Linked DNA regions of Homo sapiens: all the other regions are linked to region 4. The links come from fine-mapping of genetic effects on gene expression. A gene starts in region 4. Each other region holds a variant in brackets. All regions are shown on one strand. Distances are between the middles of the regions. Region 1 has its middle 45 kb from the start of C15orf39. Region 2 has its middle 35 kb from the start of PPCDC. Region 3 has its middle 6.8 kb from the start of RPP25. Region 4 holds the start of PPCDC (phosphopantothenoylcysteine decarboxylase).

Region 1 (2,684 bases), 130 kb before region 4:
CTGGGAGGGTCAGGCGAGAGGGGAAGGTCTATTGTCAGACATCAGCCACTTTACCCCAGCAGCAAGCCGCGGCCCTCAGAAGGGCCGCCTCACCCACCTGGGTCCAAAAGGCACTAGAGGTAGGCAGCGTCCAGCCCTGAAGAGTCTGAGGGAGACAGGGGTGTCCTAATCCAATGCTAGGCACAGTTGGCATCTGACCCCAGTCCTGCCTTCACCTGGCTGTGAGAAGGGGTTGAGTCAGGGGACCAGCCGAGATGGAAATGTGGCTGGAGGAAGAAGCTAAGGGCAAACTACTGATGCCCAGAGGCGGGTATTCCTGAAAGTGGGACGCGCAGGTGACCCCCAGGCTCCACTTCCCCATCCCCCACCCCCCAGCCATCTCAGACAGGCCAGCTGGGATTTGGGGACAGGATACATTTCCTGGTCATCCTTCCAGAGTAGGTAGGGTCCTATCCCTTTAGCTGGGGACCTTCCGGAAGCCCTGGCAGTCCTGATGATGGGCTACTCTCTACTTGCACTCCTCCAGTGACAAAGAACTCATTAGCTCCCCCAAAACACCTTATCACTGGCCCCTGGCTCTGCTGAGAGGAAGTCTGTAGTCCTTCTTCTTTTCATTTTTTATTTTTTGAGACAGGATCTTGCTCTGTCACTCAGGCTGCAGTGCAGTGGTGTAATCTCAGCTTACTGCAACCTCCACCTCCTGGGTTCAAGCACTTCTCGTACCTCAGCCTCCCAAGCAGCTGGGACTACAGGTGTGCGCCACCATACCCAGCTAATTTTTGTATTTTTTGTAGAGATGGGTTTTCACCATGTTGTCCAGGCTGGTCTCAAACTCCTGGGCTCAAGTGATCCAGCCGCCTTGGCCTCCCAAAGTGCTGGGATTACAGGGGTGAGCCACCATGGCTGGCCCTTCTTGTTTTTGTTTTTTTGTTTTTTGTTTTTTGAGACGGAGTCTCGCTCTGTTGCCCAGGCTGGAGTGCAGTGGCGCCATCTC[G/A]GCTCACTGCAAGCTCTGCCTCCTGGGTTCACGCCATTCTCCTGCCTCAGACTCCTGAGTAGCTGGGACTACAGGCGCCCACCACTATGCCCAGCTAATTTTTTTTGTATTTTTTTTTTTTTAGTAGAGACGGGGTTTCACCATGTTAGCCAGGATGGTCTTGATCTCCTGACCTCGTGATTCTCCCGCCTTGGCCTCCCAAAGTGCTGGGATTACAGGTGTGAGCCACCGCACCCGGCCTGGCCCTTCTTATTGAGCTGGAATCTGCCTCCCTGGAACCTTACCCCATTAGCTGACATAGCCCCAGACACTGTTCCAGGTGTGGGGTCAGTGGTGTGGTGTCTGCCCTAGCAATTCTGGCTCATGATCCAGTCCTTCCAGCTTCCCCAGGCCACTGCCTCTCAGTTCCACCTCCAAAATCTGTTTTTGTTTTTGTTTTTGTTTTAATGACCTAATACTCTCTGGGGGGCAGTGAGCTACCCATCACTGGAGGGATGCAAGCCAAGGCTGGAGGCCTGACCATTAGAGGTCTTCTAGGGGTTGGGTGGAAGCTGAGTCTCGATCCTCCTGGGGGTTTCCCGGCCCTGGGAAAGGTGGCAGGGGAGATGTGGGAGGCAAGGAGTTTGGGCTCACTCCACACCCTGGGAGGTGAGACTCAGAATCGCCAGCCAGCTATGTCGTCTTTGTTTTTTCCTTTCCCAAACAAAGGTGACCTCTTGAAAGCAATGCCCCGCCCACCAGGTGCCAGGGTGGGGTCTGTCCCATGAGCTCAGGCCTTCCAGACATGCAGAGAATGGAATGCAGAAGGCGCAGCCTAGACTAATTGGGGAGCACCCCCCATCCACACATTGTAGCTCTAGCTCAGTACCTCCCAAGACATAGGGGGATGCTCGCCCTACACTTGGTTTGCCCCCATCCTGCCCTCATGGGGCTACAGACCACCCCAACCCCACCCGAGTACCAGAAGAGGCCAATGAGCAGGGCCCCCCCTCCTGAGGACCATAAACAGTGACCCAGGCACAGAGGGAGTGTAGTGAATTCCTGTACTTTAATGTTGCCCTGGCATCCGTTTTGAATATAATCTGGACTTTCTTACATTAGAAGCAGGGCTCAGTCAACCTTGACACTGTTTCCAGCTCCCTGCTTCCTCCCAGTTCCTCTATGTGCTCAATCCAGATATCTACCTTAGACAGTCATCTCCCGGTGACTGCCTCCCTGTGGGACAGCTACATACAGCCCACTTGACTGGTCCCGCTGACCCCACAGCCCGCATGGACTGTTGCAGATAGGCCAGTGACCCTCTCTCAGCCATAGCGTGACCCTGCTTGCTCTAAACTCACCAATTATTTTATTTTATTTTATTTTATTTTATTTTATTTTATTTATTTATTTTTGAGATGGAGTCTCGCTCTGTCACCCAGGCTGGAGTGCAGTGGCGCAATCCTGGCTCACTGCAAGCTCCGCCTCCCGGGTTCAAGCCATTCTCCTGCCTCAGCCTCCTGAGTAGCTGGGACTACAGGTGCGCACCACCACGCCCAGCTAATTTTTGTATTTTTAGTAGAGACGGGGTTTCACAATGTTTTCCAGGATGGTCTCAATCTCTTGACCTCGTGATCCACCCGCCTCGGCCTCCCAAAGTACAGGCGTGAGCCACCGGCACCTGGCCTAAACCCAATTATTACTCCCCTCA
Region 2 (2,684 bases), 35 kb before region 4:
GAGATGGAGTCTCACTCTGTCGCCCAGGCTAGAGTGCAGTGGCACGATCTCGGCTCACTGCAACCTCTGCCTCCCGGGTTCAAGCAATTCTCTGCCTCAGCCTCCTGAGCAGCTGGGATTACAGGCACTCGCCACCACGCCCAGCTAATTTTTTATTTTTAGTAGAGACGGGGTTTCGCCGTCTTGGCCAGGTGGGTCTTGAACGCCTGACCTTGTGATTCATCTGCCTTGGCCTCCCAAAGTACTGGGATTATAGGTGTGAGCCACCACACCTGGCCAAAAAAATTTTTTAATTAAAAAAATTTTATGTCTGGTCAGGACCTAGTTAAAGTTAAAAAACTTTCTTTTTTTTAATTTTAAAGAGAGGGCCGGGTGCAGTGGCTCACACCTGTAATCCCAGCACTTTGGGAGGCCGAGGCGGGTGGATCACGAGGTCAGGAGATCGAGACCATCCTGGCTAACACGGTGAAACCCCGTCTCTACTAAAAATACAACAAAAATTAGCCAGGCGTGGCGGCCGGTGTCTGTAGTCCAGCTACTTCGGGAGGCTGAGGCAGGAGAATGGCATGAACCCAGAAGGCGGAGCTAGCAGTGAGCCAAGATAGCGCCACTGCACTCCAGCCTGGGCGACAGAGCGAGACTCCATCTCAAAAAAAAAAGAAAATTTAAAGAGAGAAAGAAAGGATCTTCAGCATCCATGTGTTCATGTTCAACTCATGTTGGCTGCTTCCAAGTCCATCGCTATGGCTGGTAACATTGTTTTGCCTACACAGATGGAAGGCACCTTTTAATTCACCTTTGAACACTCCTTCCTCTTCCAGGAATCCAGAGGCCTGAAAGGGAGTCTGCTGGGCCTCCAGTCCCTAAGGACCTGCTGTCTAGGCTAGCAGGCAAAGCATCACCATGTAATCTCAGCAGATAAAGCCACCATGAAATGAGCCCATTGCAGCAAGGGAACGACACATGCTCCCAGATTCCACCTGGATTAGCTGCATGTCCTCCAAAAGCCCTGAAGCTCACATATCTGCCTCTTGTCCTCACACCCACCCACTCCCCACATTCCTTTGCTATGAGACAACTGGTAGTTCTTCTGGCCTGATCATTCCCATTGCCTTGCCGCAAGGGGTACCAAACCTGGCTTAAATATTGTAGAATATTTGGTTCCACCAGGAAGCTCTCAGTGTAAACAACTTGTCAGTTATTGGGGTTGATTTCTTTGCTCAGAGGCAGTTGCGTGACACTTAGGATTTTCATCCTGCCCTAGAAACCACAATACATGAAGGAAGGAAGCCATGAGCAGAAAAAGGTAATGAAGGAGCTGTCCAGTTGGGACTGAAAGGGCAGGCATCTGGGGATG[C/T]TGATGTATGGTGGAAGGGGTGTTTCAACTGACCCCAAGGAGGTAAATGCAAATAAGGGTAGAAGTCCTGTGCAGGAGCCTGTTTGCAGGTAGCTGTAGGGCAGAAAGAGAAAACCCTAGCACACTGCACTGGCTGTGCGGCCCTCAGTTTCTTGTCTATGAAACAGCTACATATGCTAATTGACTCCATCGTGAAGCTGTTATGTGAGGAGGGTGAAATGAGATTAAAGAAACACTTGGCAATATGGAGAACATGTAACACGTACCCATAACCCAAGTCTTATCTAGGGCTCCACACAGTTCAGTCCTGCTCAGCTGCACTCAGAGAATCACACATTGCAAAGGGCTTTAAAAAGAACCTCAATCACAATTGCTGCAGTGAGCTGAGATTGCGCCACTGCACTCCAGCCTGGCGACAGAGCAAGATTCCATCTCAAAAAAAAAAAAAAAAAACCTTGGCCAGGCGCGGTGGCTCACGCCTGTAATCCCAGCACTTTGAGAGGCTGAGGTGGGCAGATCACAAGGTCAGGAAATCGAGACCATCCTGGTTAACACGGTGAAATGCCATCTCTACTAAAAATACAAAAAATTAGCTGGGCGTGGTGGTGGGTGCCTGTAGTCCCAGCTACTTAGGAGGCTGAGACAGGAGAATGGTGTGAACCCGGGAGGCGGAGCTTGCAGTGAGCCGAGATCGCGCCCCTGCACTCCAGCCTGGGCGACAGAGCGAGACTCTGGCTCAAAAAAAAAAAAACAAAAAGATTCCTTCACTCCTCCATTTGTTCCCATCTTCCCAGTTCTGTATCTCAATCTGTTTTTCTTTTTTTTTTTTTGTTTGAGACGGAGTCTTGCTCTTGTCATCCAGGTTGGAGTGCAATGGCACGATCTCGGTTCACTGTAACCTCTGCCTCCCAGGTTCAAGTGATTCTCCTGCCTCAGCCTCCCGAGTAGCTGGGATTACAGGCGCCTGCCACCACCCAGCTAATTTTCGTATTTTTTAAGTAGAGACAGGGTTTTGCCATGTTGGCCAGGCTGGTCTCAAACTCCTGACCTTGTGATCCACCCGCCTTGGTCTCCCAAAGTGCTGGGATTACAGGCGTGAGCCACCACCAATCTGTTTTTCTAATCCCACACCACAAAGTGCCCAGGAACCACAGAACAGATTGTTTTTGTTTTGTTTTGTTTTTTGAGATGGAGTCTCATTCTACTGCCCAGGCCGGAGTGCAGTGGTACGATCTCAGCTCACTGCAACCTCTTCCTCCCCGGTTCAAGCAATTCTCCTGCCTCAGCCTCCTGAGTAGCTGGGATTACAGGCATGCACCACCACACC
Region 3 (2,684 bases), 74 kb after region 4:
AGACTGGACAGGGAGCTCCAGGCAGAGCATAGAGAGCGGGTGTGTATGATGCTGAGGCTGCCACAGGTGTCTGATGGATAGAGGAGATGGCAGAGGGTAACGTGTAGAGATGCAGGTGAACTAGAGTGCTAGGTGGGAGCCAGGTCACAGGGAAGTGAGGGAGCCGGTGGGAGCCAGGTCACAGGGAAGTGAGGGAGCCACTGGGAGCCAGGGAGTGCTCTGAGCCCAGATCTGACTGGTGTTTGAGAAGGATCCCTCTGACACCTGTGTAAGTGGGAGTGGATTGGAAGGGGGTCTGATTAGACCCTAGAGACAATGCAGGGATAAGAGATGAGACATCGGCAATGCGGAGGGAGATGGGAGCAGATGTGAGAGCTACCCAGGCTAGGTAGGATTTCACTGCTATTACAGCCAGGAAATGGGAGGGTTCTCCTTGAGCATTAACCCTGCCTGGCCAGGACTTGGTCTGCCTTTCTGGCACCCCAGGGGACGTGCTATGTCAGGACCAAACAATGGAGTGATTATTTTTTGTGGGAGGTGGGAGTACCCAGCTTCAAATTGGTAAATCTTTAAGAGCTGTTGTCCATTGCCATGAATCTGCCAGAGTGTATTCACTTCACTGTTAGGTGCATACCTGGGCCAGACACACACACTGCCTACCCCCACCACCCCTTGCCCTTCATCTCCCAAGCTGATTAGTTCAGTTTTGGTCATTGCTATGCCCACACTGACCACTAGGTGATGCTCTCGTCCCTCTATTTCACTGAGATGTTGAAACACTCGCAGGTCTCCAAGAGAATGGTAGTTAGAAAGGCAAAGGAAAGGAAGGAAGGGAAGGAGAATGAAAGAGGAGGAAAATGCAGCCACAGGAGGGTCTCCTCAAAGGCATCAAGTTTCTTCCTTTCAGAGCACAGATACTGGTTTATAAGTGTGTCCTCATTAGTCTTATCTTTTGGCTATTGGTCACCCTACTAACCCATGAGCCCGTGATTGACTGGATCCTGCCTGCCTTGCTCCTTGCCCAGCTCCTGGCACATGAGAAGCTCTTAGAGAGTTGTTGATTGAATGGACTTGCCGCTGGCCAGGCACAGTGGGTCATGCCTGTAATCTCAGCATTTTGGGAGGCCAAGGTAGGAGCGCTGATCACTTGAGCCCAGGAGTTCCGAGTCTAGCCCTGGCAACATAGTGAGATACCATCTCTACAAAAAAAAAAAAAAAAAAAAAAAAAAAAAATTAAATAGTTGGATGTGGTGGTGTGTGCCTGCAGTTCAGTTACTCAGGAGACTGAGGTGGGAGGATTGCTTGAGTCTGGGAGGTCCAGTCTGCAGTGAGCCATGATCACTCCACTCTTTCAAACCAACAAAAGACTTTCTGAGCCAGGTTTCTGAACTGTTCTGATGTCACATTACAATTCTTAACCATCCAACCAATGGCCAAAGCTGCCCCTATCTCTTCCACAGCTTCTCATCCCATCTGAGCCCTTGGGTACCCCTGCCTTTGGAGAAGCTAGGGTCACCATGGCAATTGGGTTTGTATATTCAGCTTGAGGATTCCAGTGTTGTTTCTGACACCTGAATATTATAGGTGCTATGAATTGAATT[T/G]CGTGCCCCCCCACCAAGACATGTTGAAGTCCTAATCCCTGATACCTTATTTGGAAACTCTGGCTTGGCATGGTGGCTCATGCCTGTAATCAATCCCAGCACTTTGGAAGGCCGAGGCAGGTGGATCACCTGAGGTCAGGAGTTTGAGACCAGCCTGGCCAACATTGTGAAACCCCATCTCTTCAAAAATACAAAAATTGGCCAGGCGTGGTAACTTATGCCTGTAATCCCAGCTATTCAAGAGGCTAAGGCAGGAGAATGACTTGAACCCAGGAGGTGGAAGTTGCAGTGAGCCACCAGATTGTGCTACTGCACTCCAGCCTGGGTGACAGTGAGACTCTGTCTCGAAAAAAAAAAAGGAAAAAAGGCTGGGCACGGTGGCTCACGCCTGTAATCCTAGCACTTTGGGAGGCCGAGGCGGGTGGATCACCTGAGGCTGGGAGTTCGAGACCCGCCTAACCAACATGGAGAAACCCTGTCTCTACTAAAAATACAAAATTAGCCGGGCATGGTGGTGCATGCCTGTAATTCCAGCTACTCGGGAAGCTGAGGCAGGAGAATCCCTTGAACCTGGGAGGTGGAGGTTGCAGTGAGCCAAGGTCAAGCCATTGCACTCCAGCCTGGGGAACAAGAGCGAAATTCTGTCTCAAAAAAAGAAAAAGAAAAGAGATTCAGCAGATTTAATAAAGATCTAAATTAAGAAATTAGGATGAGGTCATATTAAGTAAAATGGGCCCTTAATCCAATACAATTTAATTCAATGAGGAATCCTTATAAAATAGAGAAGAGACAGAGATTGATTACACAGAGGGAAGAATACCATGTGAATATGGAGGCAGAGGTTGGATTTATACACCTGCAAGCCAAGGAAGGTTGCAAATGACAGAAGCTAAGAGAAAGGCATGGAACAGATACTTCCCTAGAGTCTTCAGAGAGCATGGCCCTGCCCCACTTGATCTCAGACTTCTAATCTCCAGAACTGTTAGACAATAATTTTTTTTCTCTATGCTTTTTTCTTTTCTTTTTCTGCGATGGAGTTTCGCTTTTGTTGCCCAGGCTGGAGTAAAATGGCGCGATCTTGGT
Region 4 (2,684 bases):
ACTCCAGCCTGGGTGACAGAGAGAGACCATTTCAAAATATAATAATAGTACCACAAAAAAAAAAAAGTGTGTAGCTATTTACATAGCATTTACACTGTATCAGGTTTTATAAGTAATCTAGAGATTATTTAAATTATATGGAGGGCGTGGTGGCACGTGCCTGCAGTCCCAGCTACCTGGGAGGCTGAGGTGGGAGGATTATCTGAGCCCAGGGAGTTCGAAGATGCAGTGAGCTATGATTGCACCACTACACTCCAGCCTGGGAGACAAGAGTGAGACCCTGACTCAAAAAAAAAAAAAGAAAAGAAAAAAGAGTATACAGGAGGGTGATGTGGTGGCTCACACCTGTAATCCCAGCATTTTGAGAGGCCAAGGAAGGAGGATAGCTTGAGCCAGGAGTTTGAGACCAGCCTGGGCAACATGGTGAGACCCTGTCTCTACAAAAATGAAATAAAATAAAAATTAGCCGGGTATGGTTGTTTATGCCTGTGGTTCCAGCTACACAGGAGGCTGAGGCAGGAGGATCCCTTGAGCCCAGGAGGTCGAGGCTGCAGTGAGCCATGTTCCTGCCACTGCACTCCAGCCTGGGTCACAGAATGAGACCTTGTCTCAAAAAAAAAAAGTATACAGCAATCCCCTGCGGATACTGAGGGATAAATGTATCTAACACACACACTCACACACGTGGGCTACTAGAAAGGCAGTGACTGCGAATTGCTACTTCCCAGCCACTGTGAGAGATGTGGAAACCCCTGCTCCAGGACAACCACCACTTCCCCAACTTGGCAACCTCTCCTGCTCACCATCTAGCACCTGCTTCCAAATACTTCAAGGACAGCAGGAAGTTCTTTTCTGACAAGATTTGGCCTAATTTTTAAATAGCACTCAGCACTTTTTGGCAGGCCTAGGGCTACTTCCAACATCCCATGGCTTTCCTTTTTTAATTTTACCAACTTTTTAAATACACTTTGTACTTTGGGCAGCCCGGGTAAGCGTTCAGTGTGAGGAGCTGACACGGCCATCATTTAAACTAGATTAAACGACACTGGACAAATAATCGCAGAGCAGCACAAAGTCGGGCTGGACGGGTACAGATGCAAACCCTCCACTCAGGGCTCGGGGGTCCCTCCTGCTCCAGGCGGCCCCACCCGTACAGCCGGGAAAGTGAGGTCGCACAGATGGACGGCCGCCTACCCACGCACAGTCGCAAACAGAGCTTCATGGGCACACAGGGGAAAATAAGGACACACACAGACAGCCGTGGACCCACGCTCGCGGACACAGCTCCCCGAACCTCCCCTCCCGCGCCGCCGCGAGAACCCAGCTTCCCAGCCCCCTTCCACTGCTCACCCGCGCCAGGCGCGTCTCGGGGCCGCTCCCAAATATCGCGGTATCTCTGCCGCTCTCCCGCGGAATCTGACTGGCACGCCTCACGAGAGCACCGGGCTGGCTGTATGTCGCGCAGCCTTCTGGGAGCTGTAGTCCACTTCTCTGCCTTCCGGGAGTTGTAGTCCACTGGGGAAATCCTGGAGCAAACCCTGGCCCTGTTCTTTGTATTGCTGGGACTCTCGATAGGGGCTGGCATAACTGTCCGACCTCCTTTCCTCACTCCTATCAGCCCCACACACACTGCTTGTTGCTTGGGGCCTTTTTTTTTTTTTTTTTTTTTTTGCTGTTGTCCCAGGTTTATTGAAAATATTACAGTATCTCAAAAAGATTCAAACAGCTTCCACGTGGCGTTTTGAAATTCATCCCCACTGTTGGCTGAGTGACCTGCAGGTTGGACAGACTGCCAAAGTCCAAAAACATCAGCATTTCCTTAATGTCAGGATATGTTAATACTTCAATGATTTCCTGATCCAGGGCTGAGACCTCAGGAACATGATTATCTCTCCTTTCTCTCTTCTCCTCCTGCAACTTGATGCAGATACCTCTCACTGAGCGCTTCAAATCAGCTTCATCACATGCATGTTGTAGCCTGCTATCTTGTTGGGGAGCTGTTTTTTTTTTTGTTTTTTTTTTTTTTTTTGAGACAGGGTCTGGCTCTGTCACCCAGACTGGAGTGCGCAGTGGTGCTATCTCCACTCACTGCAACCTCCACCTTTTGGGCTTAAGCCATCCTCCTATCTCAGCCTATGGAGTAGCCAGGACTACAGGAGTGCACCATCATGCCAGACTAATGTTTGTATTTTTTGTAGAGACGGGTTCTCACTCTATTGCCCAGGCTGGTCTCAAACTCCTAGGCTCAAACAATCCGCCCACCTTGGCCTCCCAAAGTGCTGGGACTACAGGAGTGAGCCACCACGCTCGGCCCTGGGGAGCATTTTGCTGGAAATAATGGTGATCTCCTTGCACATGTGTTGTTTGTGTGGAAGTTGCTGCCCGGGTGTGTGTATTACTTTTTTATGACGAAGTATAGAAAAGGGCTATCTTCATGGTATTAGTGTGAATGGGGCCCATGTTGGCAGGTCCTTAGTAAAAGAGGGCTCGTGGCACTTAATATTTACCAAGCCTCTTCTATTTTAGGTGCACAGGATACAGAGATAAATCAGATGCGTCCCTGTTCTTGAGACAAACAGGGACACAGAAAATGACAGGGTAAGATCCTCCATGAGGAAGCAACACCTCTAGGCAGGAAAGCCTTCTTGAAGGAGTGACTTGAAATGAATCTTGAAGGACAGCCA

What was found.
Region 1: its variant is fine-mapped to the expression of PPCDC in whole blood (TOPMed, PIP above 0.99).
Region 2: its variant is fine-mapped to the expression of PPCDC in whole blood (TOPMed, PIP above 0.99).
Region 3: its variant is fine-mapped to the expression of PPCDC in esophagus muscle (GTEx, PIP 0.99).

The regions. Positions count from the first base shown.
Region 1 is chr15:75,155,945-75,158,628 of GRCh38, reverse strand. No RefSeq gene overlaps it. Among named protein-coding and RNA genes, the nearest start is that of C15orf39, 45 kb to the left of the region's middle. RefSeq lists enhancers at 1-428, 1,134-1,633, 1,634-2,135. The variant G/A (reference allele first, on the strand shown) is at 995.
Region 2 is chr15:75,056,904-75,059,587 of GRCh38, reverse strand. No RefSeq gene overlaps it. Among named protein-coding and RNA genes, the nearest start is that of PPCDC, 35 kb to the right of the region's middle. The variant C/T (reference allele first, on the strand shown) is at 1,358.
Region 3 is chr15:74,948,618-74,951,301 of GRCh38, reverse strand. No RefSeq gene overlaps it. Among named protein-coding and RNA genes, the nearest start is that of RPP25, 6.8 kb to the left of the region's middle. RefSeq lists an enhancer at 566-615. The variant T/G (reference allele first, on the strand shown) is at 1,602.
Region 4 is chr15:75,022,293-75,024,976 of GRCh38, reverse strand. PPCDC (phosphopantothenoylcysteine decarboxylase) reads right to left here and starts at 1,387. Exons shown (of 6, transcript NM_021823.5): 1 at 1,351-1,387.